Homo sapiens: one gene and its partners. The protein of the gene in region 2 purifies or fractionates together with the protein of the main gene of each other region. This does not show direct contact. Each region holds a gene or a part of one and is shown on either strand. Other genes may lie near its edges.

Region 1 (7,985 bases), on a different chromosome or scaffold from region 2:
ATATGATTCAAATAAACAATTTAATAAAGAGTGAAGTCTTTCTTTTCTCATTTCTCAAGCAACTCATTTTCTCCTCCCAGAGTAAGCAATGTTTATTGGATTTCTTTTGTATCCTTCCTGATGTACTCTTTACACATACCAGCACATATGCACAGATCTTCTATTTTTTTTTTTTTTTTTTTTTGAGACAGGGTTTCACTCGGTTGCACAGGCTGGAATGCAGTGGTACAATCTTGACTCACTGCAGCCTCTGCTTCCCAGGTTCAAGCAATCATCTCATCTCAGCCTCCTGAATAGCAGGATTATAGGCATGTGCCACCATGCTCAGCTAATTAAATTTTTTTTTGGTATTGCCCAGGCTGGTCTTGAACTCCTGGGCTCAAACGATCTTCCCATCTCAGCCTCCCAAAATGCTGGGATCCTTCCATCCTTTTCTATAACACACATACACAGACTCTTCACCTTCCCTGGCTAAGGGACATTTACTTACCTTAGAGTGGCTCCCTCAGTCTTAATCACATCTCCATCTTTCAGATAAACATATTGTTGCTCTCCATTTCCTATAATTTCTTCTCTCTGAGGATTCCGTGGGAGTTTTTTAATGCAATAGGTAGTGTCTAGTCATAAAACATATAAAATATATTAATTCACACTTTATAATTAAGCCTTTTAAGAGATCAACTTTCATAGAGCTAACACTTGTGAATGACTGCATAAAATATTAACATTAAGAGACAACAGAAAATGGGATGAATTACAGCAGGTTATCTCTGGGATGTAAATATTTCATATCTTTCAACCAAACAGCTCTTCATTCTTTCATGCCCCTCTAGGTCTACATGAAAGCCTCTATTTTTTGAGTCAGTCCTAGTTTATACAAAAAATTTAAAAGTAGCTAGCTTCGGCATCCTGACAAGTGTTGAAGAGGCACTAATACAGAACCTGGAAACTCTTCTCTATCCAGGTGCCTAACATGTAGCAAAGGTGTCATGACAGTAATTAATAACAAAAGGATAAACATTAATTAATAACGAAAGCATGAGGTCCTTGCTACAAGTACTGAAATGAAGCCCCAAACCAGTGGCTAAGATATTAAACCTTTAAAATAAGCTAAATCTATACCACCCTTCACTGACACAAAGAAAATAAATTAATTAACCAATTAACAATTGAGTGCCAATTAACTAACCAGTATACTAGGTATACTGAATACAACCACTGTGATATCAAAGTTCTTAAAAGCTGTCCTGATTGGGAAACTAAAACTTACAAACATGAAACAAAGAACTATACTTGGTACCATTTAATGAATATTAAATGGACAATTCGGCTAATAAAGGCAGCAGGAGTTCAGAGAGAGTTAGGAAAGGATTTATAAATATGATAGAACTTGAGGTGTGACTTACAGAATGAGCAGGATGGGTAAAGGTACAGAGAAGGACTTGCAGGTAAGGGGAACAGCATTAGAAAAGGCATTAAGTCCAGGCGTGGTGGCTCACACCTGTAATCCCAGCACTTTGGGAGGCCAAGGTGGGAGGATCACGAGGTCAGGAGTTCGAGACCAGTCTGGCCAACATAGTGAAACCCCATCTCTACTAAACATACAAAAAAATTAGCCAGGTGTGGTGGTGTGCACCTAACGTCCCAGATACTCGGGAGGCTGAGGCAGGAGAATCGAATGAGCCCAGGAGGCGGAGGTTGCAGTGAGCCAAGATCACGCCATTGCATTCCAGGCCGAGCGACAGTGCGAGACTCTGTCTCAAAAAAATAAAGCATTAAAATGAGAATGAGCATGACATATGTGTGACAACATAATGCTACCAACTTTCTACTGCAAAATACTGGCTAGGAAGAGTGGAGATAAAGTTGGATAGGTAAGATAAGCTCAGATCAGAAAGGGTCTCAAATTGCCTTTTACAAAATAGGAGAATTTAAACTTTACCACGTGTAATCACTGCACACTCTTTAGTAAGATAATGAAATAGTGTTAACTGATGATCAATATGGCGGCTGTGGGTAGGGAGACCAAAAGGAGATCAGAGAGCCCAGGAGGGGAATGACTACAATTTCCCAGCTAGAAGGTAATGAATAGTAGGGTTAAGACGGTAGCACTGGAAATATGAAGGGAGAAAGAGATATTTCAAAGAAAAATGGACAAGGCACAGAAATTTGCTAGTTTGAGGATAAAGGAGACAGAAACACTGAAATAAAAAGAAACAACAACAAATACCACCTCCCCTTCCAACCCCAAACTCTATTATTTTGTATCTAAGAGGCCGAAGGAAAACAATGATATGCTTTTCTGGGAATTGACATTATATAACAAGATTGAGATATTGAGGTTTTTTTGTTTGTTTTGTTTATAAGCTGTATAATTTTATCTTTCAGTAAAGAAATGGAGGCATTACATTTCTGCTTATGAGACCTTTAGTAGACAATTAAAAAATCACAATTATATCAAAATTACAAAATAAATGTCATACTATAACTTTGTATCTGTCTTCAAAATTATGTGCAAATATAAATGAAAACACATATCCTATTTGAGTGGTTGTTGGAGGCTGGGGATGGGGGAAATCACTGCAAAGCAGCATGAGGGGACCTCTTTTTGGAATGGAGGAAGTGTTCCATATCTTGACTGGAATGGTCACATAGGTATTGATGTTTGTTAAAACTCACTAAACTGTTCACTTAAAATGGGCACATTTTATGTATGTAAATTAAAGCTCAATAAAATTGATTTATGAAGGAAAAAAGTGGGCCATAAACATTTTAATTTTTCAAACTGAAAAATCTGAAGAGTTGGCTGAGGTGACAAAGCTAATTAAGAAATCACAGAGTAGTTTCTTTTTTTTTTTCTTTTTTTTTCCCGCAAACAGGGTTTCACTTTGTAGCTCAGGCTGGTCTTGAACTGCTGGGCTCAAACTATCGTCCTGCCTCAGTCTCCTGAGTGGATGGGATTATAAGCACACACCACCGTCCCTGGCATAAAATAGTTTTTTAATTCACAAGATTTAATAGGTAGATTAAAAGAAGAGGTAAGACAAAATTAAAAGAGGTAAGACAAGAGAAGGAAAAGTCAGACTGACAGATTATAAGTTCCTATGGTACACAGTCCCCTTAGATTGGAAGAAAGGAGCTAAGAGGGTAAGGAAGCTTGGTTGCCAGTTTTTTATAACTGGCAGCCTGGTGATATTGGGTGTGGTAGCTGAGATGTCCCAATTGTAGTCACAAGGCCTAAAAAAGCAGATCTTTACAAATGTTTAAAAATACTAGCTCAATGTAAATAAGCATGAATGTTCTTGACCTCCTTACTGTGCCCTGAATGTGCCAACCACACTCTCATTCCACCATCTTTGCTCCTGCAATGCTGTTTGCCTGCAGGCCTTCCTGCCAGGAGCTTGCTCCTTCTCTCTGTCCACTCTGGATATAACAGCCCTTGCCCTTCTCCACTTTACGCTCTCTTCCCTTTCTCTTCTTGTACCTTTATTTTCCTGCATAGCACCCATGATTATCTGATCTATTTTTTTCCCTTTTTTTTTCATTCTGGTGCCCAGGCTGGAGTGCAGTGGCACAATATTGGCTTACTGCAGCCTCAGCTTCCCTGGCTCAAGCCATCTGCCCACCTTAGCCTCCCGAGTAGCTGGGACTGCAGGTGCACGCCACCATACCCGGGAAATTTTTGTACTTTTTTTGTAGAGACAGGGTCTTGCTATGTTGCCCAAGCTGGTCTTGAACTCCTGAGCTCAAGCAATCCACACACCTTGACCTCCCAAAGTGCTGGGATTACAGGCATGAGCCACTGCACCCAGCCTGATCTATTATTTATTTACCAGTACCTTCCCTACTGGAATGAAAGCTCCATGAGAACAGAGTCTGTTTTGTTCACTGCTATACCCCTTGTGCCAAGAACACTGTCTGACATATAACAGTAACTGGAATATTTAATGAATGAATGAATGAATCTAGGTATATGATGGTGGGATGAGGAAATAAAGAGATAGAAAATGTCAGTACTGTATAGGTTTCAGGGACAATGAATTATCAATACAATGATATATTGCCTGAATTTCAGCATATCTTAGTAACTGCCTTAAAGTTACAGAAGGACTGAGATAATCTGTTAGAATGTGAACAATAAGAGCACCTACCTCACAGTATCCACATAAATTGTTTAGTGCAGTGCCTGGCACAGAGTAAATGCTCAACAGTTGTTAGTTATGATTAAGTCTGAATAGTAACTCACACACTAAAGTAAAATTGAGGATTTGAAACAGAAATCAGGATTTCCGTTCCTCCTTTGTTAAAACTAGGCACAGTATTCAACAGTCTAATCAATTTCTAAAAGTACCATTTAAAACTGAGGTATTTAGTAAATGGTTTATAGACTACTTAGCTCTGTAACTGAAATAAATTATTCTCCAAACACGGCTTTCCTCAATGAGCTTAATGAATGTTTTCTGTTTACCATTATTGATGCTTTTACAAATATCTCCTATGCCTCCAGAATGATCTCGGTGCCAGTGAGTCACTACAATTTCCTGGATTGCTGTGTTAAATTCAGTTAGAGCCTGCTTTAAACAGCTGATGTATTCTGGAATTGCTGGTTCTCCAGTGTCAATGAGGATTCTCCTGAAAATTAAATGGAAGATAATCACACAATTGGAACACTGCGTTGACATTAGCATTATTTTGCACACAGATAATTTACATTAAAGAAACTGCAAAAATTATTTTACTTTTAACATGCACAAAAACCAGCTACATCACTTCAGCTTAACTACAGTAATCTCACCCTAAGAAAGTTTTCTGAGAAAAATTAGAGCTAAATATAAGTCTGAACAAGGAATAATAGCAGTCATCTTGAACATTTACATAGCAATTAAAATAAACATGGCACCATTCCAAGGACTTTACATATTTTACCAATTACATTCCTCGTAACAACTGTTTAAAGTAGATATTTTATCATTATATTTAGAAGTAACTTGCCCAGGTTACTCTACAGATAAATGGCAGAAACAGCTTTCAAACCCAGGTATTCTGATGCCAGAATATGTGCTTTTATCTATCTGCCTTTGAGATCTCATATCTCAGTATATTTCAAAAGTTTTATAGATATGAAAGATTTTGATTCAATGGCACCCCTAAAGAAACTAGTCTTTGGCACTAGATATACAACTTATCACTGAAGTTTTATATTAGCACCCTGACACATGAAAATGAAGGCTTTAGTGAAGCATGGGAAAAACATCTGAGCTATTTTCTTTCTTTACTTAGACAACCCCATTAGCTGTATTTTTTGCTTGTGGTTCTGAATCTTCCTTATATTTTGTTTGCCCTTCCTCACGATTTTATGAGGTGGCCTTTCTCTGTGAAGTTTTGCTGAACTAAAGACATGGGGGTGACATGTTCCTCAAGATCCAATTCTTTTTTTTTTGAGACAGGGTCTTGCTCTGTCACCCAGGCTGGAGTGCAGTGTTGCGATCTCAGCTCATTGCAGCCTTGACCTCCTGGGCACAAGCGATTCTCCCACATCTACTTCCTGAGTAGCTGGGACTACAGGTATGTGCCACCATGCCCGGCTCATTTTTGTATTTTTTGTAGAGATGGTGTTTCGTCATATTGCCCAGGCTGGTCTCTTAACTCCTGGGGTCAAGCAATCCTCCCACCTCAGCCTCCCAAAGTGCTGGGATTACAGGCGTTGAGCCACCATGCCCAGCTCAAGATCCAATTCACAAACTTCTTCACTCATACTGTTTCACAGTAACACCTCAATAATTCAGGCTGGCTGACAGATTAGCCTTGATGAAAAGTCTGAGTTATTCATTAATTGATCAATAACTGTTTATGGATTACCTAATATGTGCTACAAATTTGTTTCTTGCAGTAAGCAGGACACAACAACCCTGCTTACATTCAACTGTTGGTGAGAAGGGGAACTGCATATGACTGGAAATAAACAATAAAAGTAACATACCATAGAAAGCATTTTGCAAAGCATTAAAATTAAACAGTGAGTAACTGGATGGTTATTTTTTATTGGTTTGTTTCCCTAACCCTACTCCCTGAGACCCAGAGCCAACAAAAACAAACTGGCCTCTCATAAGGGAGGAGGGTAATGGCCTCATAGCCCATTGGCTTCTATCTGCACCCTATGTTCTGTAGCACAGTAGATGTCCTTCAGAAACACAGTGTTGAACTGTCCTATCCGGAGACAGGAGACCAGATGGTTACACTGGACCAAGAGGGCATTTATTATAGGGTTCTGTTGGTAGTGGAAATGTAAGGAAGAGATGGCTTTAAGAACATTTAGAAGGTACAATCAACCAACCACCAGGATATTTGTTAAACAACGAGATGTGGAAGGAGGGAAACAGTTGGCGACTCTGAGGTTTCTAGGTGGGAGGATTGGTGTGCCATTAATCAAGAAGGTAAACCCTGGAGGGAGCAAATTTGAGATGAGTTTGACTCGGGTCAGAGTGAGTTCTGATGCTATTCCTAGCCATCTTATCTTGCTTTTTTTCCATAGCAATTATTACCATGTAATATATTATGTATTTACATATTTATTTTTTTATTGCCTATTTCCACAACCAACACCACCGTACAAATTTGAGTCCCTTCAGGGCAGAAAGCTTGTCTGTTTGGTTCAAGGAATTTATGGATTTATTTCTATATCCATAATACATTGTACTGCACTTAGCATTGTGCATATTTAGTTATGCTAAATTAAAATACACAAGACTATAATACTATGATACCTCCAATAATACTCTCTAGCCCACCCATCCTAGATTTTGGCTGCCTCCATGCATTTGCAGTTATTTACCACAAATTCTCACTGCCCCTAACGTAGAGTCACTGGGACTATTTTTGTGGGTCTTCTGGTCCTCACAAAAAGAATACTTCCATGCTTCAGGTAAGGCTCAAATTTTTTCAATCCATCAAGGCCCCACCACTTTTAAAATTATTTCTTAATCCTTGCCTTCCCGTCCTCCCAAGAAACTCTGTTTTGAAATATCTCCTAATCTAAAAATGAATATAAATTTCTGTAATTTAATGACCAGATCACATCACACTGATCAAAAGTCATGACAAAATTAACAGGGTTGATACATGAATTTGATAAAATCTAGTAGCAAAGAAAACAGATCTTTTAGAATGCCTGTGCTGGTTGTTTGCAGGTGAAAGTGTGAGTGACCATACGACTGTGGTAGTGGAGAACATGTTTCTGGGGCTCCAGTTTTAGGTCTCTTAATGGTCCTGTCTTGGTTTAACAAAATTGGAATTGATAAAAGAAGGGCTCTCAAAAGAAAGAAAACAGAAAAAAGTTCTGGAATTAATACAATCTATTCAGAACAAAGGAGGGGTGTCTAGATACTATAAAACCTAAAACATGAGTTTGCACCAAGCTTTGAGGGAAAAAAAAAGTCACACTGATAACATATGACATTGACATAGCAATTTAAACCATTTGGGGCTTTCATATTTACTATTTCTTTTGATCCTCATATCAACTCTAGGGAGGTATTATTACTTTATTAATTATTTATTTTATAGAAAACTTATCTTCAGAAAGGCTAAGTGATTTGCTCCAGGTCATATAACCAGCAAGAGGCAGTGCTAGGAAGCACTAGATGTTCAGATACAAGGTCCAGTGACTTCTCCATTCAAAACACTGCCTCTCTAGCAGAAGGGGATTGCTTAGGTTAAGTGCTTAGAATCATTATGTGGCAAAAATAAAACTTCAGCTATACATTTGAAAAAACTGTTATCAGTTTTGAAATTGAAAAAAATGTTATCAGTTTCTCCCTTAGCAAACAGTTACTCTATCAGTGATGTCTGTAAATAGTTATAATAGATGATTGGATAGTATCATCTCTACATGGGCTAGTTGACTTTGTTCTTCTTGGCCACAGATAATAATATCCCTATCTCAGGAGGTCATTTTGCAAATGCAAATTATGCTAATGAAGGGCTCA
Region 2 (7,985 bases):
TACTTCTCCTGCAAGAGAAACGCACCACTTTATCACGGGAACTTCACAGGATGGCAGACCAGGCACGGAGGCTCACGTCTGTGATACCAGCACTTTGGGAGGCTAAGGCAGATGGATCACTTGAGCCCTGGAGTTTGAGACCAGCCTGGACAACATGGCGAGACCCTGTGTCTACTAAAAATACAAAAAACTAGCCAGGCATGGTGGCAGGCACCTGTGGTCCCAGCTACTCAGGGGGCTGAGGTGGGAGGATCGCTTGAGCACAGGTCGAGGCTACAGTGAGCCAAGACTGTGCTACTGCCCTCCAGCCTGGGTGACAGCGACATCACGTCTCAAAAAATGCTTCAGAACACCTCCTGGTAACCTTAGGACACTGCCCGACTGACAAGGCTGAGAAGGCAAGGTGAGCAGAGCCCGGCGGGTGTGCGCGTGTGGAAGAGGGAAGAGAAGCCAGCGTCCGGGATGAGCCACACATCCGCCTTCCCGCACCGGCCTGGAGAGGACGACAGGGACGGAGCTTCCTTTTCATTCACATGGTTTACATTTCACATTATGGAGGTAACAGCAATGCAGGAGACACAGAAAAGAAACCGCCACAGCTGCAGCCTCACAGCAAGCACGGGGAGGAGGGGCACAGGGACCAGCAGCAGGGGAGGCCACCCAAGCCCCTGCAGGCAGGCAGCTGGTCACCTCCTCTCGAGATGGAGATGGTCTCCCTTCCGACCAGCACTGACCAGGGCAGATGGGGTGGGGGCGGGGGGAGGAGAATGCAAACCCAGCCACGGGGCCAACAGTTAGCAGGAAAACACAGGGCGGCAACAGCGGGGTCTCCACACAGCCCCGGCCCTTCTACCGCAGCCGCACCAGGAGGGCCTCAGGGCAGAGCTCTGACAGAAGCTGCTGGTGCCCACGCACAGGCTCAAGACCACCGCGCCTCACCCCCGAGGTTCCCCACCCGCTATGGGCAGTGGTGTCGGTGAGTGACTCTTCAGCTGGTAGAGCTGCACCAAGCGGGGGTCTGGTAGATGCCAAGATGGTTTCTCACTAATCTGTTCTTCCCTTCTGGCGAAAAGAATCTGAGAATGTTTTAAAATATTCCCTGTGTTCCCACCAACATTCTCAATCCTAAGAAATCTCCCTCTGCCTCCTACGAGGGAAGCAAAGTTAACACTTCTAAGGAGACCTTTAAAACAGAGGAAGTACAAATTGTCATAAGCTTTTAGGTTACCTATTAAAACGAGTTTTAATGTTCTAGCTATTTTTCCTACAAAGTACGAAGCATTTAAAGACAAAAATAAGGTCAGTCAGCCGAGCGCAGTGGCTCACGCCTGTAATCCTAACACTTTGGGAGGCCGAGGTGGGTGGATTGCCTGAACTCAGGAGTTCGAGACCAGCCTGGGCAACACGGTGAAACCCCATCTCTACTAAAATAGAAAAAATCAGCCGGGTGTGGTGGCGGGTGCCTGTAATCCCAGCTACTGGAGAAGCTGAGGCAGGAGAATCACTTGAACCCAGGAGGTGGAGGCTGCAGCGAGCCAAGACCATGCCACTGCACTCCAGCCTGGGCAGCAGAGCAAGACACTGTCTCCCAAAGAAAGAACAACAGGCCGGGCGCGGTTGCTCACACCTGTAATCCCAGCACTGGGGGAGGCTGAGGCAGGTGGATCACCTGAGGTCAGGAGTTTGAGACCGGCCTGGCCAACATGGTGAAACCCCGTCTCTACTAAAAATACAAAAATTAGCCAGACGTGGTGGCACATGTCTGTAATTCCAGCTACTTGGGAGGCTGAGGCAGGAGAATCGCTTGAACCCGGGAGGCGGAGGCTGCAGTAGTGAGCCGAGATCGCACCACTGCACTCCAGCTTGGGTGACAGAGTGAGACTCTGCCTCAAAAAAATAAAAATAAAAAAATAAGGTCAGTCCTTGCAGCACAGCTCAGAAGAGCTCCACCTCGTGTGGGTTCTGGACTCCAGGGTGCAAAAGGAGTTGAAAACTCTCAACGTCCCTCCTATGGGGATTGGTAAAATGATTTATGGGTGACACCCACGCAATAGTATATTTTACACCTATCAAAAAGAATGAGGCCGGGTGTGGTTGGCACATGCCTGTAATCCCAGCACTTTGGGAGGCCAAGGCAGGAGGATCACTTGAGCCCAGAAGTTCAAGACCAGCCTAGGCAACATCGTGTAAACCCCCTCTCTACCAAAAATACAAAAATTAACCAAGCATGATGGCACAGGCCTGTAGTCCCAGGTACGGGAGACTGAGGCAGCAGAATCGCCTGAACCCAGGAGGCGGAGGTTGCAGTGAGCCGAGATTGTGCCACTGCACTCCAGCCTGGGCAGCAGAGCAAGACGCTGTCTCTCCCCAACCAAAAAAAAAAAAAAAAAGAATGACAGGCCAGGCACAGTGGCTCACGCCTGTAATCCCAGCACTTTGGGAGGCTGAGGCGGGCAGATCACGAAGTCAGGAGTTTGAGATCAGCCTGGCCAACATGGTAAAACCCCATCTCTACTAAAAATATAAAAATTACCCAGGCATGGTGGCACATGCCTGTAGTCCCAGCTACTTGGGAGGCTGAGGCATGAGAATCGCTTGAACCCGGGAGGCAGGGGTTGCGGTGAGCCGAGATCGCGCCATTGCACTCCAGCCTGGGCGGCAAGAGCGAAACGCTGTCTCAAAAAAAAAAAAAAACAAAAAAAAAACACACAAATTGTCAAAATCAGGAATGAAAGCAGGAATATCATTACAGATCCAGCAGACATTTGGGGGGTGGGAGTTCATACTAAGTTTTAAAACTATACAAATTCCAAAAATAAAATACAGGAGAAAATTTTTTGACCTTGGGATAAACAAAGATTTCTTAGATGGGAGACAAAAAAGAATGAAGCATAAAAGAATCTATTGGACTTCATTAAAATTAAAAATGTTGGCTCAAAAGATACTGCTAAGAAAACCAGAGGCCGCAGAATGGGAGGCGCCCTGCAGGAGGCGGCCTCTCACCAGGGACTGGGCTCCAGCACCTCCTTTCAAACGGCTGGCTCCACCGCGTGGGCTGGCTCCACCGTGTGGTGTGCCGAAAGACACGGACCAGCTGGTGTGCCCACGCCTTCCCAGCAGGAAAGCAAACACCACAAGCACCGGGGAAGGGGAGTTTGGCAGTTTCTTTAAAAGTCAAACACACCTCCCGTCCAGCCCGGCCACTCCCTTCTCCTGGGTGTTCACACGGGGCTGCGGCTGGGATGTCCATCCCTCCAAACGCATGCTCAAATCTGATCCCCAATTAATGGAGGTGTTTGGATCATGGGGGGAATCCTTTGTGAACGGCTTGGTGCCCTGCTCCAAGTGCGAGTTTTTGCTGTTAGTTCCCACAGGATCTGGTTGTTTAAAAGAAACTTTTGCCTCCCCCACTCTCTCCTTCCTCTGGCCACATGCTTCACACCCACCAGCTCCTTTCGCCTTCTGCCATGAGCAGAAGCAGCCTGAGGCCTCACCAGGTGCAGACGCCCAGGCCATGCTGCTTATATAGCCTGCATAACCATGAGCCACATAAACCTCCTTTTATAAGTCACCCGGCCTCAAGTATTCCTTTATAGCAACACCACACAGACTAAGACACCCAGGAAGTTAATACGCATCCACTGTATTTATAACTAGTATCAACAAATAATCATGACCAGAAGTGCTTAGGGATCCATTTAGTAACACGTGCAAGACCTTGAACACGCAAATTTCAAAACACTGCTGAGAAAAGCTAAAGACATTCATAGATGGAAAGCTCACAGAAACACTCAATGTTAAGATCGCAATTCTCGCCACATCAGTTATCACAACAGTCCCAATCAGCAGCCAGGCTAGCTTTTCTGATAGAAGTTCACGAGATGATTCTGAAAACGGAAATGTAAAAGGCTTAAAACAACTAAAACCATTTTGAAAAAGAACACTGGAGGATTCACACATACCAGTGCCAAGACTCAGCACAGAGTTACAGTCATCAAGGTGCTGTCCTCGGACACCGTGGCAAGTCATAGAGACCAACGAAACAGAGCAGAGACCAGAAGCAGACTCGGGCATAGAGGGCCCATTCTTTTCAGAAAGGTGCCAAGGCAATCCAGGGAGGAAAGGACAGTCCTTCGACAGACAGCCCTGAACACCTCGGGATCACACTGCGAGAGGGTGAACCTCTACCCTCACCTCGCACCACACACAAACACCATCTTGAAAGGGAACACTGTAAATTGTTTGTAAATATAAAAGCTAAGACTTTAAAACTTCTAGGAAGAAACACAGGAGAAAGTCTTTGTGAGCTAAGGGTATGCAAAGATATCTTAGAAAGGGCACAAGAAACATAAAAGAAAAATTGAGTAGGCCGGGCGCAGTGGCTCACATCTGTAATCCCAGCACTTTTGGAGCCCAAGGTGGGCAGATCACCTGAGGTCAGGAGTTCGAGTCCAGCCTGATCAACATGGAGAAACCCCATCTCTACTAAAAATACAAAATTAACCGGGTGTGGTGGTGCATGCCTGTAATCCCAGCTACTCGGGAGGCTGAGGCAGGAGAATCGCTTAAACCCAGGAGGTGGATGTTGCGGTGAGCTGAGATCGCGCCGCTGCACTCCAGCCTGGGCAACAAGAGTGAAACTCCGTCTCAAAAAAAAAAAAAAGAAACAAACAAAAAATAAGTAAATGGAACTTCACCAAAACTATAAACTATTTTCCAAAAGACAATGTTAAGAAAATGAAAAGGCAAGCCATGAGCTGGGAGAGAAAAACATCTTTTAAATATATATCTCAGCTGGGCGTGGTGGGTCACGCCTGTAATCCCAGCACTTTGGGAGGCCGAGGCGGGTGGATCACGAGGTCAGGAGATCGAGACCTTCCTGGATAACACGGTGAAACCCATCTCTACTAAAAATACAAAAAATTAGCTGGGCGTGGTGACGGGCACCTGTAGTCCCAGCTACTTGGGAGGCTGAGGCAGGAGAATGGCTTGAACCCGGGAGGCAGAGCTTGCAGTGAGATGAGATCACACCACTGCACTCCAGCCTGGGCGACAGAGCAAGACTTTGTCTCAAAAAACAAACAAATAAATATATATATGTATATACACACACACACACACACACACACACATATATATATATATCTCACAAAGACTTGTTTCCAGATGATATAAGGAACTCTTACAAGAGCAGCCCAACAGGCCAAACCCAATATTTAAAATGGACAAAAGATTGAACATAAACTTCATGAGAAGGCATCCAAAGGCCGACACACATGAAAAGATGGTCACATGGGGAAATCCACATTTTAAAGGCAGTGAGACGCCACCACAGGCAAGTTAGAATGGCAAAAATTGGAGAGACCGACAACACCAAGCAGTGCTGGCACAGCATGGAGGCCCCGGAACTCAAGCATTGGTGGGGGACTGTAGAACAGTACAACCATTTTTGGAAAACGGTTCACACCTTTAACCACACAACACAGCAATTCCACTCTTAGGTAGTATCCAAGAGCAATAAAAACATGTTCACAAAAGACTTGTACACAAATGTCCATAGCAGCTTTATTCAAATAGCAAAAAACTGGAAACAGACAAATGCATAAACAAATTGTAGCATTTCCACACAATGGGCTACTCAGAAGCAAAGAGCGTGGCTGACCCTCACCAACATCAGCGGGGCCGAGAATGCCACAGAGATGACGGAGCAATGAGATTCTGTTCATGGGAAACTAGAAAGTGACCTGAGGTCACAGCAGAGCAACAGCTGGCGGGGACGCCACATGGGAGGGACACAGGAGCCTTTGGGGTAGTGGTAAGTTCCACATCTGGACTGTGGAGGGGATTACACAAGTGCAAACATCATCAACATTCCTCAAACTGCAATCTGTCCACTCAAGACAGACACACGGGCCAGGTGACGTGGCTCACGCCTGTAATCTCAGCACTTTGGGAGGCCAAGGCAGGCGGATTACCTGAAGTCAGGAGTTCAAGACGAGCCTGGCCAACATGGCAAAACCCTATCTCTACTAAAAGTAGAAAAATTAGCTGGGCGTGTTGGCTGGCGCCTGTAATCCCAGCTACTCAAGAGGCTGAGGCAGGGAGAATTTTTTTTTTTTTTTTTTTTTTTTTTTGAGACGGAGTCTCGCTCTGTCACCAGGCTGGAGCGCAGTGGAGCGATCTTGGCTCACTGCAACCTCTGCCTCCTGGGTTCAAGCGATTCTCCTGCCTCAGCCTCCTGAGTAGTTGGGATTACAAGCGTGAGCCACCACGCCCGGCCAGCAGGGAGAATTTCTTGAACCCGGGAGGTGCTGGTTGCAGTGAGCCGAGATTACGCCACTGTACTCCAGCCTGGGCGACAGAGGGAGACTCCGTCTCAAAAAAAAATTAAAAAAAAAAAAAAGATGAGTATTTATGATTCATCTGATTTAGAGTTGGAATTTGCATGAGTAAATACTGTAAAATAATGTTAACCTCTACTCTAAGAAATTGAAAAAGATGCTCAAAAAACCGGGTGATTTATTTAAAACAACCCTGTCAGAGGCAGCGACTCTCACTCCACTCAGCAGAGGGAGCCCACGCCTGAGACCACCCAGGCGTGCGTGCTTGTGACACCGTTTCCAGTGAATTCGGGGAAACACACCCCTGGAGAACCCCGTCCTGCTCCTGGCAGACTTTGGCCCAGCTGGCCTGGGCTACGCCATGGAGGCTCACGTGGGGCCACCGTGGAGATAAGAGTCCTTTGGACACAGAGCCACGTTCTGTGGCCTGGAGAGCCAGCAGAGCCACGTGCTGCCAGCCTGACCCTACTGCTCAGAATGTGGGAACAGGCTGGGCGCTTTTTACACACGCAGCGTCTGAGGCCTACTCCAGACCCTCCGAGGCAGAGGGATCTCCATAGAACCCCTGGGTTTGCCGTGCAGGGCGAGCTGGGCCACACTGGCCTGAATCCCAGGCCTGCTCTCTGGGCTCAGAGTGTGAGTGTCTACCCACTCTGGCGACCCCGCTGTGCACAGCGGCCCTGAGCAGCCCACAGGAAGGCACTGCGCAGTGACGGCCCCACTCACCTTGGCCCAGGCCAGCTTCTCCCGGATGGCGGCATTGCCGGGCTCCACGTGGCGTGCAAACTTGAGGTTGTTGATGGTGTACTCGTGGCCACAGTAGACTCTCTGAGGAGAGAGGTGACAGGTGAGCTCGGAAGGCTGTTACCACCTGTGAAAGTCCTCAGGGACGGGACCTGGATGCCCCCGGGGGGTGTCCGGTGAGAGGGTGCCAGGAGGGAGAGCAGCCCCGCCCTGGTTAAGGCCCCCCACACCCCGGCCCGCAGGGAGGCGCTGCCTACTGTGTCCGGGGGGAGCCGGCCCAAGACCTCCAGCAGAGCTTTACACATCTCATCCGCAGTCCCTTCATAGAACTTCCCGCAGCCAGCCACAAACAAGGTGTCACCTGGAAACAAGGACAGCCACGAGGTGGGGGCCACTTGAGGCTGGTGGCTAGGACTCAGGAGGGGGCCAGGAGCAGGGTGACACTCACCGGCAAGGCCCAGGCCCCGAACCCTGGCTGCCCTCCGGCCACGGCTGCCCAGACTCAGCCCCCCTGCATTCCGGCTCCCACATCTCCTTCCAAGTCTCAGCTGACAGTCCAACCACCCAACTGGCCGAGCAGACCCGAAACCCAAGTCACTCCTCCCTCACTGCCCCCAATCCCACCAACTGTGGCTCTGAGACCCTCACAAATCCAGCCCTCTCCCCAAACACGCAGCAGCCCCTCTCAGGCCCATGCCTGGCTCCCATCTTCCCTTGGCCCCAGCAGCCAGCGCCACCCTGTGACCAAGGTCTCACCACCCTGGCTGAGCTGAGCGGGACCACCTCTCACCCATGGCGGAAGATGCGGCCCACACCGCTGGGCACCTCAGGCGCACCCAGGCTCCTTCCGGCCTCGGCCTCAGGACGGCATCCCCACCCCATCACTGCCCAGGCCTCTGT
Region 3 (7,985 bases), on a different chromosome or scaffold from region 2:
ATTATTTACATAGCACTTAATTGTTTTAGGTATTACAAGTAATCTAAAGATTATTTAAAGTATATGGGAGCATGTGCATAGGTTATATGCAAATATTACACTATTTTATATAAGGGATTTGAGCATCTGCAGATTTTGGTATCTGCAGGGAGTGGGTGGTGTTCTGGAACCAATCCCCCACATAGGTGAAGTATTTCCCTACCTTCCCTACTTGCAGTATATATGTATTTGTCTTGATAAATGGAAACCCATGGATTATAAAATATCCTCTACTACAGCTTAAGGATCAATGAATGAGCTAAGGAGAGGCAAAGGAAGCCAACTGCCTCAAAATAAAGCTTAGACCCAAAGCTTAGATGACAAAACTTCAAACTCTTTGGTTCCTTGATAGAGGATTTGTGGATTATTTGAGGTTCTGATTGGATAGATGATTCAGGTAGTATCTACCTGCAATTTATATAAAAAATCAGATTTAGGAGATGGATTAGAAGGTAAATCTGTATATGGTGAAGTTTTTAATGTCAGTTCAACTGATATATACAGAAGGCTTTGTGCATTCTGCTGCGAAGATCACAAATGTAATTTAGACCTGAACCCTACTCTCCTATTACTGAGTGGTGATGTGTCAAATTATTGGTAGAAGTATCAATAGAGCATGAGCTCACATAATAGATGTGAAGTGACAAAATGTAGATGAGCATTGAGCATTTTTGCCAAATTTGCTTAAAAGAAAACAAGATTGAAATGCTTTTTAGGAAAGAACCACTAAAGGTTTTAAGATAAAATCCCTAGAGACATTGAAAGGCGACGAAATCAAAAAGACATGTGCAAGTTGGCTCTGGGAAAACAGTGAGGACTTACATTTCTCTAAGATAAGAGGAGAGTGGAAAACACACAGAAACACAGAGAACAAATAAAGCAAAGGGAAGTTAAATCCCGATTAACATTTTTAAGAATGCTACATTGCTCTCATGCTTTTTCACTCTCTAGGTTCTGCTATGTAAAACAGAAGGTAGAGAGCATAATTACAACTTATAACTGAAATTAGGCTCTACAGTGTGACCCAACTGGGTTGAAAAAACTAAGTCCACCACTGTATAACTTCGGACAAGCCACTTATCTTTCTGTGCATTTGTTTACAGTATTATAAAAATGCATTATAAGAGTTGTTGGGAAGATTCAAAGAGATAATATACATATAGTGATTAGCATAGGGCCCAACACAAATCAAATTCTTCATAATTAGTACCAAAACAGCAGTACTATAGTCTTTGCCATTGTCATTGTTTTGTTATTATTACTATCACCATTATCATTATTGACGATAATACATCAGGTTACAGAAAGGAATGACTCAGTAACAAGCTAGAGAATAATCACATGTTAGTTTCCTTCTCATTCTATTACAGACTCTGCACATATATTTTTGACTCATCCCATAAACACTCAAAGGAAGCATTTAACATTTTTAGATCATTTGTTTTCCAAAGTTTGGCAATATCTATGGAATAACACAGGTGAGAGACACAACTCATTGACCTTGCACTGGATTCCTAAAAAATGGGATATTATTAGAACTAAGGGAGCCAGTTGCAATGCAATTTCCAAGAAATATATCTCTGCACTTAACATATGCCATTAATCAAGGTTTCTCCACCTGCATATCTTCTGCTTGAAAATGCAGAAGGGAATTAGGATCAAGATAAAAAAGAATGAAAGAAAAATAAAAAGAAATAGTACACATCAACGTATTTAAAAGTAAATAAAACCAACAACTTAACATATAAAGAAATCCTATTTTTTTATTGAGAGGTTGGAGGAGTAAATTTCCAAGTGTTCATAATTAGACAAATTAATTAGGCTATTTATCATGTTCTTATAAAAATAACATTAAAGCATACTATAAGCAATGAATAATGTGGTCATTATAGATTTTCCTTAAGCCAGAAAATCAACAGAGTAGTTTTAAGGAAGAGATTAATATTGCTTTCTATTGTCCAGGAAACATTTCTAAAGAAGCTGTCAACTCATTTAAAGCTCCCTTCCTCCCACCTTTAGGACTGTCATACACAATAAAAAATTAAAAGTTTATTTTTTCAAAGAACAGCTATTTTTTATTCCATATCTAGAATGTTTTTGAGATGTAGACCCAAACTTTAAAAACTCTTCTTATATCACTATTTAAAAAGAAAAGTAAAAACTTTAAACGGTTTCAGAGGAGAAGAGTTAAAAAATTTTTAAAAATCTAAAATTAATTGAGACTATTTTCAACAAGCAATAGAATATATTTAGGAGCACAGATGCTAAATTCAGCCAGCCTGGGTTGAAATCTTAGCTCTGCTATTTACTAGTTTTATAAGTTTAGGCAAGTTTCTTAAGAAACTGTATTTCCAAACCCTTTAAACAAGAATAAAAATTGGCCCTGCCTCACAGAGTTGTTATAAATATTAAACAAATTAAAACACTTAGTATTGTATCTAGCGCATACTATGGAGACAATAAAAAGCTTAGTTGTTAGCTGTTTTCATAACAGCTGTTTTTATGATAACAGATAATAAAAAGGTTAGCTATTTTATGATATACCTGACAATGTTTATGTACTTTAGCAGACTAAATTATCCCAACAGTCATAAAGTTATTATTTACCCCTCAATCAGTAAGGACAGGCTGGATTATGCCATACGGTAACGATTGCAAAATCTCAGTAACTTGCAAAAATAAATGTTTATTTCTCACTCACGCCACTCCATTGTGGGTTCAGGTAGACTCCCCAAAACATTGTCATCTATACGTTTTTGCTTAGCAATCCAAACTGCTTCTATTCTACATGTACTTCCAAATGGCCATGGTAGATGAGAAAGAACTAAGAATTGAAGCTCTGGCAATTAACTAAGTGAAAAGCCTTGCTCCTCTTATTGCAGTGGCCAAAGCTAATCGCATAATCACGTATATGTGGGGAAGACCAATCTTCCTACATATTAGCAGAAGAGAACAGACGAGAAAAGAAACAACACAAAAAATAGTAATACCCATCACAGTATGCATTTTATAATTCTTCCGTATTATAATTATTTGGACCAAGATACTGTTCAAAGAGTAGAGCCAAGATTTTGAACCAGAAATCAGTTTGTTTTCTCCACTAACTAATTCTCAATACTTTTTCCTCCTAACCACCAAAATTAGGGTATCCAACAAATCCCATTGATAAGAGTGGCAAATTTCATCTGTACTTAAGGAGGGAGAGTTGGGAGGGAGAGTTAGAGGAAGGCACAGTCTAGGTATTTGTGGTTTATTATAGAAAAATACTTGCCTCTCAATTGAAAATCAATGGAATTCTATGAAAATAAGAAAAAATGTATGGAGAGAATGCAAAGTGAGATTAGCGCAAAAGTGGACTTTTCTAAGCTCCCATGCACTCATTAGATTAAAGTTATTTAGCAAATGGACAATAATACGGAGTGACTAATTTTTTTTTTAGTCTTACTAAATTTTTCTACAGATATCTATACTGGCCAGATCTACAGTAGAAATTAAGCATTCTTTTTCTTCCTCCTTCTTTTCTTCTTCTTCTCTTCCTCTTTCCTCCTTCCTCCTCCTCCTGCTCTTCTTCTTCTCCTGCTCCTTCTTCTTCATCTTACCAAATTTATTTTACTTAACTGCTGCATCCACTTAGCAATGACACCTTGAAAGATTATACTTGGCAAGTGTTGTTATTCTACCATAAACACCTTAAGAGAAGGTATTCCTATTGTCCAGAGTCAGGTCATAAGTCAAAGACCTACAGACTTTAATTGCTTTCCTCCCTCTTAAGGCAATTAATGTTTTAAATTATTAAAGCCATATAATTAAACTCTGTCCCTCTCTAATTTAGTATTTGAAAGACCTTCTGTTTTTTACTATCCTCGTATTTCCAATTGGACTCCTTCAAACTCAAAATTCACAAATTTTAATTTTCCTAAGATATTATAAAAATAATACCTATCCTTTCTATGCACTGTTCCTTACCTCATTCAACTAAAACACTGACAAAAACAAATATAATTAATACCTTTAATATAACAAGTTCCCTATCCACGTAGTTTAGATAAAGGATTTGAGCTCCACATTCACATATACTTGAAACTGTAATTTAGAGAGGTTATTACATTCATATATATAATTGCAAAGATTCATTAGCCTCCTACACATTTTTCTTACAAATGTCACACCACAGTGGAAAGCAATGATCTCCCTCATGGAGTTGCAGCTTGTTGCTTATGAAAGTAGAATAAAAAAAAATAAAAAGAAGAAGAAGAACAAGCAAACAACTTCAACCACTGGATTTTTTTTGTCCTTTCAACTAATACTATATGTGGCATGACAAAAGAAAAGTAAGCCACCTTTCAGGCGGTGATAAGAGTGTGGATTTTCCCCCAACACCTAGTAGTTGATCAGTCACAGCCGATTGAATTTCCATTGTTCATTGATTGCGCCATTTGCCAGGCAATCCATCCTTGCTTATGTAATTGCAGCATTCCTGTAGTTCACTCTGTTCTGTCCTGAAGGTTCAGCAGCATGACAGGCTGAGAAAATTAGATACGGCACAGTACCAAGCTGCTGACCTTCAGAATATAAAATAAGGCCCATCTTTTAAAACTGGTCTTTCTTGATGAGGTTATTTTGAGAGGCCTTATTTCTAACAGGCAATTTTTCATGCCAAGCAGATACCTTCTTAAAATATTTTTAAATCTATAAAATAATGATGATTTTATATTTTAAATATACCTTTACTGTGTACAACGCTATGAATAAATTCATTTAATTTAGAGTTTGTCAAAAGGAGAAAAATTCTTCCTCTTTATATAACACTCTCACCTTCAAACCAGAATTAAATGTAATTTTAAAAATATCTGACAAATACTGAATTTCCCAAACAGTTTAATGTAGCTGAGCATTTGTTTGCCAAAGAGCCAAAGTTCAATAGGGGGATTAAATTGCTTTCTGGATACATAAAATCCCCATTATATTTGTATTTATTTTCCTTTGAAGCAATCTCAAACTCACAGAAAATTTGCGATTACAAGATAAAGTACTTTTTTTTTCCCTTTGAAACATTTACTGACATGATGCCCAAGAACCCTAGAATAATTTAATATGTAATTGTTATAAATAAGGACATTCTTCTAGAGAACGATACTATAACCATCAACTTCAGGAAACTAATATTGACACATTACCACCATCCAATCCTGAAATCCTGTTCTGGCTTCTTACTTGTCCTCAAAAATATCAATTATGGTGAAAATATTCAGAAACTACCTTTTGCATTTAATTCATATCTCTTTGGTCTCCTTCAATTTAGTAGCCAAAAATCTTTTTCAGGTTGGCCAAGATTTGGCAACCTGCCTTCGGAACAGTTCCCTTGATATTTGGAGGAAAAGATTCTGGGCTTAGCCACTGGAGCTATTAATACTAACCCAGGTCTAGCCTCTGCTAACTAGCTGTGTGGCCTTAAGATTCAATTCCCTCATATGTAGAAAAGGCATGATAATACTAACTTTGCAGCATCTGGGGAAGGAATAAATGGAAATATGTGACTCTACTGTATAGTTGATAGTTCAGAGAAAGGACTCAACAAATATTCATTATCTTTTCCCTTTTCAGCTGCTTCCTTATCCTCCCTGTCAGACTCACAAACAAATATTGAGATATTTAGCTCACTAGAATCACTGTAGTATTTAAAAAGAACAAACAGATCTACTGAGTACTCTTTATACCAATTCTGAGACTTTTGCAACCTGTTTCTTTCAGTAACTTGTAGCAGCAAAAGCAAAAAATTAACATAAGAAACCACACAAAGTTCAACTTGCAAAAACAAGGAGTCCTGTTGAGCAGTAGGCTTCAAAACAAGCAAAATTCCCTTCATTCCTATTTCATAATTTCTTCACTTCTGCATTTAAACATAGATTTCTTCTTAAAGGGAGGAGAGGAAATAAGGAATGAGGAAGAAACTTATTTTACTTGACCCAGATACCACCATACTGCCATATATTATCCTGTTTCATCTTCCTGTCACTGTCGAATATCCTCATGGAATGTTTTTGCCTATACCAGTTCACTCTGTAATGTGCTATTCTGGCTTTGGCCCTTATCTCACCATTGATATCATATTATAGAAAGTCATCAAGAATCTCTGAGTCACAGCAGATATTTTTTTGATTTTCAATAGCCTCAAAGCATCTCTAGAGCCCTTGACCACTATTTTTATCTTTTCTCTCCTTTACAATGCATGACACTAGAATATCTTGCTCTTTCTTTTCCTCTTTCTTTGAATGTCTCATCCATTTCCATAGTTTTTTTTTCTCCCACTTTTTCCCAAAGTTCAGTCCTTACTATTTTCCTCTTCTCTTCCCTTTCTTTCTCTCTTTCACTTCAACTTTCATAAGCTTCTACCTCTCACCTCTTTAAGATTTATACTAAAATCTATAATTCTACATCAAGTTCTCTCCCAGTTTTCAGCCTCGTAACTTTAATTGCCCCATCAATTCCTCATCTGGACATTTAAGTCAGATTCTTACAGTTACCATGTCTTTACTTCCCTGCATCCCGCTGCCAAAAAGTCACTATGTGTAATTTAATTTTTATTCCTGAAGTTCCTCTCTTTCTACACCTCCTGCTATTACCCTAGTTCATTAGTCACATTATTTTATGTTCTCATTACTCCATGTTTCCCAATATCCCTCATTTCCCAACCTACCAAGAAATATTGAAATCTGAAGTCAAACTTGGCTTCTGATAATACTTTCATCCTATCACCTTCTTAACAAAATGTTTCCATGGATCATTACTGCCTTACGAGGCACTGCAAACAAAAATGATCACAATGGAAAAGTTAATGGCTGGGACAGGCAAAGTATAATGCAATAGGGGTGAGGACAGTGAATAACAAACAAGCACATGCACCATTTAAAGGATCAGCAGCTGCTCAGTTCCAGCCGAGTGTTGCTGTGCAGGAATACTGACCCATCGCCGACAGACATTCCGGGTTTTTGTTGTTGTTCTTGTTTGTTTTTTTGAGACAGAGTCTCACTCTGTCACCAGGCTGGAGTGCAGTGGCACAATCTTGGCTCTGACTCCCTAGATCAAGCGATTCTCCTGCCTCAGTCTCCCAAGTAGCTAGGATTACCGGTGTGTGCCACCACATCCAGCTAATTTTTGTATTTTTAGTAGATATGGGGTTTCACCATGTTGGCCAGGATGGTCTGGATCTCCTGACGTCGTCATCTGCCTGCCTCAGCCTCCCAAAGTGCTGAGATTACATGCGTGAGCTGCTGCGCCCTGCCCATTTTTTCTTCTTTAAAGAGGAGACCAAGGGCCAGGCACGGTGGCTCATGCCTGTAATCCCAGCACTTTGGGAGGCCGAGGTGAGCGGATCACGAGGTCAGGAGTTCGAGACTAGCCTGGCCAACATGGTGAAACCCCAAATCTACTAAAAAAAAGTACAAAAATCAGTTGGGTGTGGTGGTGCACATCTGTAATCCCAGTTACTTGGGAGGCTGAGGCAGGAGAAATGGTTGAAGCGGGGAGATGGAGGTTGCAGTGAGCAGAGATCATGCCATTGCACTCCAGGCTGGGTGACAGAGTGAGACTCCGTCTCAAAAGAAAAAAAAAAAAGACCAAAAGCTGAATTTTTTACAGGAAATTTAGATTTTTATATTCCAATATTTAAATGCCAACAAATTAAACAAACAAAACTTGTAGGTCAAACAAAGCCTACCTGCAGGCTTTCAGCCCTGCTGTGACCTAAGAAGTAAATGCAAATGCCTTAGCTTGCTACTCCAAGCCTTTTAAAAGCAGGCTGAAACTATTTTCTGAAAGTAAGTCCCAGCAACTCAGACAAGCCACTAAAAGCCAGCTGGTCTACTATAACTATCCTCTAAGGACACTTGGCTTTTCTTACCTCTATGTTTTTGTCATCTTGTTCCCTGAACATAAATGACTTTCCT
Region 4 (7,672 bases), on a different chromosome or scaffold from region 2:
TGATAATGTGCGTCACCCCCTGGGCTGGGGGCTGGAAGCCTGAGTCCTTGGCAGCAGGGGTCAGGGAGAGCTGGGGAAGGACACTTGCTGGTGCCCTAGTCACACCCAGGGCATATTGCTGGCCTTGTGCATCCTGTGCCCCCACCTCAAGTCTTTTGAGTGCAAGGACACCTGAGTCCTGAGGAAACTGGGTTAGCGAAGGGCACTTTGGAGGGGCTGTTCCCTGGCGACACCCACAACACACTCGGTTCTTGTACCCCTCTTCCTGACACTGTCTCTCGCCACTAGTTCTTGGTGGAGGAAAGGCCCCTGGGTCCCAGAGAGGGGGCCGGCTCAGGGCTCAGGGGTCCCGGTATGGGTGGGAGTCCCTCCTGGCCACACCCACCGCAGCTTTAGGCCATGCCCCCACCGCCCTGACTCACGCTGCCTCATGCTGTCCCCAGTTCTTCGAAGGGAAGGAGCTGCGGCTGAAGCAGGAGTATTTCGTGGTGGCTGCCACCCTCCAGGACATCATCCGTCGCTTCAAGTCTTCCAAGTTCGGCTGCCGTGATCCCGTGCGCACGAACTTCGATGCCTTCCCAGATAAGGTACCATGCGTGTGGAGGGCGACTCTGTGACCGGACAGTGTGTGCTAGGCCTCTCCCTCCAGCCTCGGCCTGCCTGCCCCATGTAATAGATAAGGGAGTGGAGACTGGGAGTGTGGGAGGGTCAGTTGTTCAGGATTCACAATCCACAGGCTCAGAACCTGGGCTTCCCTCCTCCTCCCGCCCCACTCCCCCCATTCCTCCCACCCCCATGAGCACCGGCCTGCCTCTGCCCACAGCCCAGTCACAGAACCGTGCTGGGCTCTCTGGGGGCCTCCAAATGGCATAGGGCAGTGACCATAGCATGGAATGTGGTTTGGAGCCCAGACTGACCCCTCCCCCTACCCCAGGTGGCCATCCAGCTCAATGACACCCACCCCTCCCTGGCCATCCCCGAGCTGATGAGGATCCTGGTGGACCTGGAACGGATGGACTGGGACAAGGTGGGCTTCAGGGCCCCTCTGCCCCATCTGATGCTCTCTGCCTCGGGGTTCCCTTCCCAGTTTGGGAGCGTGGGAGGATATGAATGGAGTGAAGGGATCAGAGCCTGAGGCCAGAGGGACCGTCCTGGAACCTGGCACTGCAGTGGGGGGGCCCACTGGGATGCGTAGTGTGTGAGGAGACCCACTGGGCTGAGGTCAGCATCCTGACTGCCCACCCCGTGTGCCAGGCGTGGGATGTGACAGTGAGGACCTGTGCCTACACCAACCACACGGTGCTGCCCGAGGCCCTGGAGCGCTGGCCGGTGCACCTCTTGGAGACGCTGCTGCCGCGGCACCTCCAGATCATCTACGAGATCAACCAGCGCTTCCTCAACGTGAGTCCGGAGGCTTGGGGGATGGTGTGGGGGTGAGGGGGGACACCCAGTCTGGGCCTGGGAGTCGGGGCGTCCAGCCAGGGCCCTGAGACTCTGGGGCAGTGGGGGCACTGGGCAGAGCTCTGGGGGTGTGGGGCTGGGGACTGGGGATGGGGGTTCCTGGGTCTGGTTCTAGCTCTGGGCTCTCTGGGCACAGCGGGTGGCGGCCGCATTCCCAGGGGACGTAGACCGGCTGCGGCGCATGTCGCTGGTGGAGGAGGGCGCAGTGAAGCGCATCAACATGGCACACCTGTGCATCGCGGGGTCGCACGCCGTCAACGGCGTGGCGCGCATCCACTCCGAGATCCTCAAGAAGACCATGTGAGCCCCGCTTTCCAGATCCCGCCCCTCTCTAGGCCCCACCCACTCCACGCCTCTGTCACACAGAAGCCCCGCCCTTCACCGACCACTCTCTGGTCTCTGGGCCCTGGCGCCTTTCACAGGTGGCGTCATTCTTACAAGCACAGCAGCCCCTTCCAGTGCCGCCCTGTCCTGAGATGACCTCCTCTTACACACAGCACCCCCAACCTTCCCCAGGTCTGCATTCCCTGCCCCAGGCCCCTTTCAGCAAGACACCAGGGTAGGGGCCCCAGGGCAGAGGCCTTCATTGTACAGGGGTGAGTGGTGACCCTCGTCCAACCTCATCCTGCAGCTTCAAAGACTTCTATGAGCTGGAGCCTCATAAGTTCCAGAATAAGACCAACGGCATCACCCCTCGGCGCTGGCTGGTTCTGTGTAACCCCGGGCTGGCAGAGGTCATTGCTGAGGTGAGAGGCCACCGTAGGGCCAGTAGAGTCAACATGGGTCCCTGCAGGGATCAGCTGGGTATGGTCGTGTAGGTGGTTCACTGCATCAGGGCTCCCAGCTGAAGGCTGAAATCCCTCCTGCACTGTGTTCCCCAAGCCTCGCATCCACCTGGAGGAGGGACACCATCTTAATTGCATGAGGGTGCTCTGTGTGCTAATGGAGGCCCTGGCTGTGGAGGTGAACACAGCAGAGGGAGTCATCCATGGGTCACATCTGAAGTGAGCCTGGAAGGGGGCAGATATCTGGTAGGGAAGGCGCAAGGTCATGCTGGCGTTAGGAAAAGGCCAGGAAGCCAGGAAGGCCTGCTGGGGTCAGGTGGGGTCAGCCATCAGAGCTCAAGGACGGGAGGGGAGGAAGGTGCATGGATGCCCCGTGCCCCATCTGGGCGGCTGGAGGAGGAGGGGCTGGGAGGGCCCCCAGAGCAGCCTGCTGGGTGAAGGGGGCTTGGCTGACCTGGAAATGGCCCCTTCTGTGTTGGGAGGAGGGAGGACATGGGGATGGGCTTGGCTGAGAGCCGTCTTCCCATAGCGCATCGGGGAGGACTTCATCTCTGACCTGGACCAGCTGCGCAAACTGCTCTCCTTTGTGGATGATGAAGCTTTCATTCGGGATGTGGCCAAAGTGAAGCAGGTGGGGAGAGATGCAATGTGGGACAGCTGTGCTGTGTGGAGAGCGCTGGAGGGGCCAGATGTCTGGGTCAGGCGTGGCAAATAGAGCTCATCTCTCCTGCCAGCCCAGGCCGTTGGTGGAAGTTGCCTGGAGTCTGTGGTGGGAAGGCATCATCTGACCTCACATGAACAGTGCTGACATTGATTAGCAATGTCTGCCCTGGTACAGGAGTGGACAGAAGTAGCCAGTGAGCCTCCTGGTAGCCATCCTCCTGGGGCTGACTGGAGTGTGGACTGTAGGATTTCCTGAGGCTGTGGCCTGTTGGTGAGCCCTTCCCCGTCTCTGCCTCCAGGAAAACAAGTTGAAGTTTGCTGCCTACCTAGAGAGGGAATACAAAGTCCACATCAACCCCAACTCACTCTTCGACATCCAGGTGAAGCGGATTCACGAATATAAACGACAGCTCCTCAACTGCCTCCATGTCATCACCCTGTACAACCGTGAGTGGCAGCCACTCTACCCTGTCTCTCAGTGCTCCCCCGTGTTCCTGCGGCATAGTACATATTGCCCAACCAACATCTCCTTTGGACTTGGGACTACTCTTGGGACATGGAATTATCCCCATTTCACAGATGGGCAAACTGAGGCTAAGAGAGCATAGCAAGTGATTGTTCGAGTCAGGCCTACGGTGTCCCAGCCCAGCCTCTGTCAGGAGCTACTACCCAGAGGGAAAGGTAGGCCCACTGGATCCCTCTCGTTTCTCCACAGGCATCAAGAGGGAGCCCAATAAGTTTTTTGTGCCTCGGACTGTGATGATTGGAGGGAAGGTGAGAAGCCAGGCTCCAGCCCTGGGCTCCCGTCCTTTGATATATCCAGGTTGAGGTCAGCCCAGCTGAGTTGCAGGATAGGGGGTGGGGGGCCAGGCAGTAGAGCTGACCCCAGACTTTGTCCCCTCAGGCTGCACCTGGGTACCACATGGCCAAGATGATCATCAGACTCGTCACAGCCATCGGGGATGTGGTCAACCATGACCCGGCAGTGGGTGACCGCCTCCGTGTCATCTTCCTGGAGAACTACCGAGTCTCACTGGCCGAGAAAGGTGGGTGCTGCCAACAGGGACCCTAGGGAGGCTCTGACTAGTTCAGTCTCAGGAAGAGGTATCAGTCGTCTCTTCCTGGGATACTTGTACTTGAAAGAAGAATCTGGAGAGGGCAATGCTTAAACCATGAGGAGGCCAGGCGCAGTGGCCCATGCCTGTAATCCCAGCACTTTGGGAGGCCAAGGTGGGTGGATCACCTGAGGTCAGGAGTTCGAGACCAGCCTGGCCAACATGGTGAAACCCCGTCTCTACTAAAAATACAAAAATTAGCTGGGCGTGATGGCAGGTGCCTATAATCCCAGCTACTTGGGAGGCTGAAGCAGGAGAATCACTTGAACCTGGGAGGCGGAGGTTGCAGTGAGCCGAGATCACGCCATTGCACTTCAGCCTGGGCAACAAAAGCAAAACTCCGTCTCAAAAAACAAGAGGAAACAAAACAAAGCAAAAACCCCATGAGGATGCCCTCTAATGGTGGAATTTCAGGCAGTACAGGGTGAAATTACCTTCAAATCTGCAACAGAGGTGGGGAAATCCAGGTTGGACCTAGATGGTCAAGAATCAACAAGAGGTAGAGGGCAGTGGGGGTGCGGTGTGAGAGGGAGGCTTGGCTGGTGAAGACTGGGAGTTTGGGGTGGGGCGACTCTGAGTCCAGCTATGCCTGGGGCCAGCCTAATCTGAGAGTCCCCAGCTGGTGTGAGGGTCTTCCCTGAGTTGACTTGTCCCCCTGCTGCCACCCCACAGTGATCCCAGCTGCAGACCTCTCTGAGCAGATCTCCACTGCGGGCACTGAAGCCTCAGGCACCGGCAACATGAAGTTCATGCTCAACGGGGCTCTGACCATTGGCACCATGGACGGGGCCAATGTGGAGATGGCAGAAGAGGCGGGAGAGGAAAACTTCTTCATCTTTGGCATGCGGGTGGAGGATGTGGATAAGCTTGACCAAAGAGGGTATGGGGGTCAGGGTTCACGGGCAAAAGACACCCAGGTGTGGCTGCTGGAGAGTGGTGCTGGGAGCAAGCGGCACGTCTGGAAAGACTGGTCCAGGCCCAGCAAGGTCTTGGTCATGGCCAGCAGGATTCTGGGAAACTTTAGAGGGCGCTTACAGCAAATAAGGTTAATGAAATTGGAAAAGAAAGAAGTAATATAGAACTGAAGGAAAAGGAAGAGAATATTATATCAACCCTAAGAGATAATATTGTTTGGGAAATGGAAGTAAAAAAATCCTTGCTCTACGCCGGGTGCGGTGGCTCACACCTGTAATCCCAGCACTTTGGGAGGCCAAGGCGGGCGGATCACAAGGTCAAGAGATCCAGACCATCCTGGCTAACACGGTGAAACCCCATCTCTACTAAAAATACAAAAAATTAGCCGGGCGTGTTGGCAGGCGCCTGTAGTCCCAGCTGATCGGGAGGCTGAGGCAGGAGAATGGTGTGAATCCAGGAGGCGGAGCTTGCAGTGAGCCGAGATCGCGCCACTGCGCTCCAGCCTGGGTAACAGAGTGAGACTCTGCCTCAAAAAAAAAAAAAAAAATCCTTGCTCCCTGAAAGCCATGGGCAAAAGGGAAATATGGGCACAGTAGTTACAAGGGGCCTATGGTCAGAAACAGTTCTTCAGAGAAGACATTATCCTGGCATTACATTAAAAAATTTTATTTTATTTTATTTTAATGTATTTTTTTTTTTGAGACGGAGTCTCGCTCTGTCACCCAGGCTGGAGTGCAGTGGCGCGATCTTGGCTCACTGCAAGCTCCGCCTCCTGGGTTCACACCATTCTCCTGCCTCTACCTCCCGAGTAGCTGGGACTACAGGCACCTGCTGCCACGCCTGGCTAATTTTTTGCATTTTTAGTAGAGACGGGGTTTCACCATGTTAGCCAGGATGGTCTCGATCTGCTGACCTCGTGATCTGCCTGCCTCGGCCTCCCAAAGTGCTGGGATTACAGGCGTGAGCCACTGCGCCCGGCCTTTTGTTTTGTTTTGAGATGGAGTCTTGCTCTGTCACCCAGGCCGCAGTGCAATGGCACGATCTTGGCTCACCGCAACCTCCACCGCCCGGGTACAAGCGATTCTCCTGCCTCAGCCTCCTGAGTAGCTGGGATTACAGATACCCACCACCACGCCCAGCTAATTTTTGTATTTTTAGTAGAGACGGGGTTTCATCATTTTGGCCAGGATGGTCTCTATCTCCTGACCTCAGGTGATCCACCCTCCTCGGCCTCCCAAGTGCTGGGCTTACAGGGGTGAGCCACTGCGCCTGGCCTATTTATTTTTATGTTTTTGAGACAGAGTCACTCTGTCACCTAGGCTGGAGTGCAATGGCATGATTTTGGCTCACTGCAACCTCCGCCTCCCAGGTTCAAGTGATTCTCTCACCTCAGCCTCCCGAGTAGCTGGGATTACAGGCACCCACCATCACGCCCAGGTAATTTTTGTATTTTTGTAGAGATGGGGTTTCATCATGTTGGCCAGGCTGGTCTTGAACTCCTGACCTCAAGTAATCCACCCGCCTCGGCCTCCCAAAGTGCTGGGTTTACAGGCGTGAGCCACCGCGCCCTGCTTGAATCCTGATATCTTAGCATTGGAGAGAGATTTTCCATGTTATTAGTCTTCAAAAATATTTTAAATGTTTGTATAACATTCCATCCTATGAGCATGTCACAACTTATTTAATCAATTCCATGTGGCTGGACACTAAGGTTAATTTCCGGTTTGTTAAATATTACTGTGATGAGCAACCTTTTAATGTCTACGTCCACATCTGATGATTTCCTTAAGATAATTATCAGAAGGGTGATATTTCTGAGTTAAAAAGTATGAGTTCTTAAGGCTCTTGATACAGATTGCCAAACTGCTTTCCAGAAAGTTTCTCCCAGTTTACACTCCCACAACAGCTTCCCAGAGTTGGCATTAAACACTGAAAGAAGTGTCTCCTGTGAGGCTTCACTAGAAAGCTGGCTGTCCCATGGGCAGGAGGGAGCTGTGAGATGTTGTGAGCATGGTCCCGCATGCTCAGAACGAGGCCTGGAAGAACCCTCTGGCTGCAGGATGGAGACAGTGCTGGAGGGGGCAGGTGGGGGACCACTGTGGGGGCTGACACCATAATGCAGGGAGAGTTGCCTGAGAGTCGCACAAGGGACTAGAGAGTCGCACGAGGGATTAGAGATTTTGTGGGGAGCGCTGGTTTCTGGTTGGAACGGTTAGGTTTTGAGACTGGCCTGTGGAGCGCTTTGAGCCGTGGTGGGGGCGCTGAGGGTCAGCTGAAGGGTTATCTTTTTTTTTTTTTTTGAGATGGAGTCTTGCTCTGTTGCCCAGGCTGGAGTGCAATGGCATGATCTCGGTTCACTGCAACCTCCGCCTCCCGGGTTCAAGTGATTCTTCCACCTCAGCCTCCCGAGGAGCTGGGATTACAGGCACACGACACCATGCCCGGCTACTTTTTGTATTTTTGTAGAGACTGGGTTTCACCATGTTGGCCAGGTTGGTCTTGAACTCCTGACCTCCTCAGATGATCCGCCCACCTCGGCCTCCCAAAGTGCTGGGATTACAGGCGTGAGCCACCATGCCTGGCCCAGTTGAAGGGTTGTACCTGTTAGCTGCTCTTGCTGCCCCAGGGCAAGGCCGGATATGGACTTGGGCTACTGGAGGAGAAAAGCCATTTTGGAGCAAACAAACTGGTTAAGAGACAGCAGTGGCGTGTGGGAGAAAAGAGCTTGTTTGG

What was found.
Region 1: the proteins of HAGH (region 2) and LACTB2 fractionate together in Homo sapiens (co-fractionation; one large-scale study listed by BioGRID). This does not show direct contact.
Region 3: the proteins of HAGH (region 2) and ACSS3 fractionate together in Homo sapiens (co-fractionation; one large-scale study listed by BioGRID). This does not show direct contact.
Region 4: the proteins of HAGH (region 2) and PYGM purify together in Homo sapiens (affinity purification with mass spectrometry; one large-scale study listed by BioGRID and IntAct). This does not show direct contact.

What each region holds. Positions count from the first base shown.
Region 1 is NC_000008.11:70,657,266-70,665,250, forward strand, and holds part of LACTB2 (endoribonuclease LACTB2), read right to left. Parts: intron 6,015-7,985; exon of another isoform or gene 4,633-6,014; coding exon 4,469-4,632; exon of another isoform or gene 2,880-4,468; intron 618-2,879; coding exon 491-617; intron 1-490.
Region 2 is NC_000016.10:1,809,826-1,817,810, forward strand, and holds part of HAGH (hydroxyacylglutathione hydrolase, mitochondrial isoform 1 precursor), read right to left. Parts: intron 7,447-7,985; coding exon 7,343-7,446; intron 7,170-7,342; coding exon 7,068-7,169; intron 9-7,067; coding exon 1-8. UniProt on the Homo sapiens protein: Thiolesterase that catalyzes the hydrolysis of S-D-lactoyl-glutathione to form glutathione and D-lactic acid.
Region 3 is NC_000012.12:81,083,027-81,091,011, reverse strand, and holds part of ACSS3 (acyl-CoA synthetase short-chain family member 3, mitochondrial isoform 1 precursor), read right to left. Parts: intron 1-7,985. UniProt on the Homo sapiens protein: Catalyzes the synthesis of acetyl-CoA from short-chain fatty acids. Propionate is the preferred substrate. Can utilize acetate and butyrate with a much lower affinity.
Region 4 is NC_000011.10:64,747,608-64,755,279, reverse strand, and holds part of PYGM (glycogen phosphorylase, muscle form), read left to right. Parts: coding exon 1-7; intron 8-443; coding exon 444-587; intron 588-934; coding exon 935-1,027; intron 1,028-1,254; coding exon 1,255-1,401; intron 1,402-1,597; coding exon 1,598-1,761; intron 1,762-2,092; coding exon 2,093-2,207; intron 2,208-2,775; coding exon 2,776-2,877; intron 2,878-3,208; coding exon 3,209-3,356; intron 3,357-3,624; coding exon 3,625-3,683; intron 3,684-3,813; coding exon 3,814-3,955; intron 3,956-4,696; coding exon 4,697-4,904; intron 4,905-7,672. UniProt on the Homo sapiens protein: Allosteric enzyme that catalyzes the rate-limiting step in glycogen catabolism, the phosphorolytic cleavage of glycogen to produce glucose-1-phosphate, and plays a central role in maintaining cellular and organismal glucose homeostasis.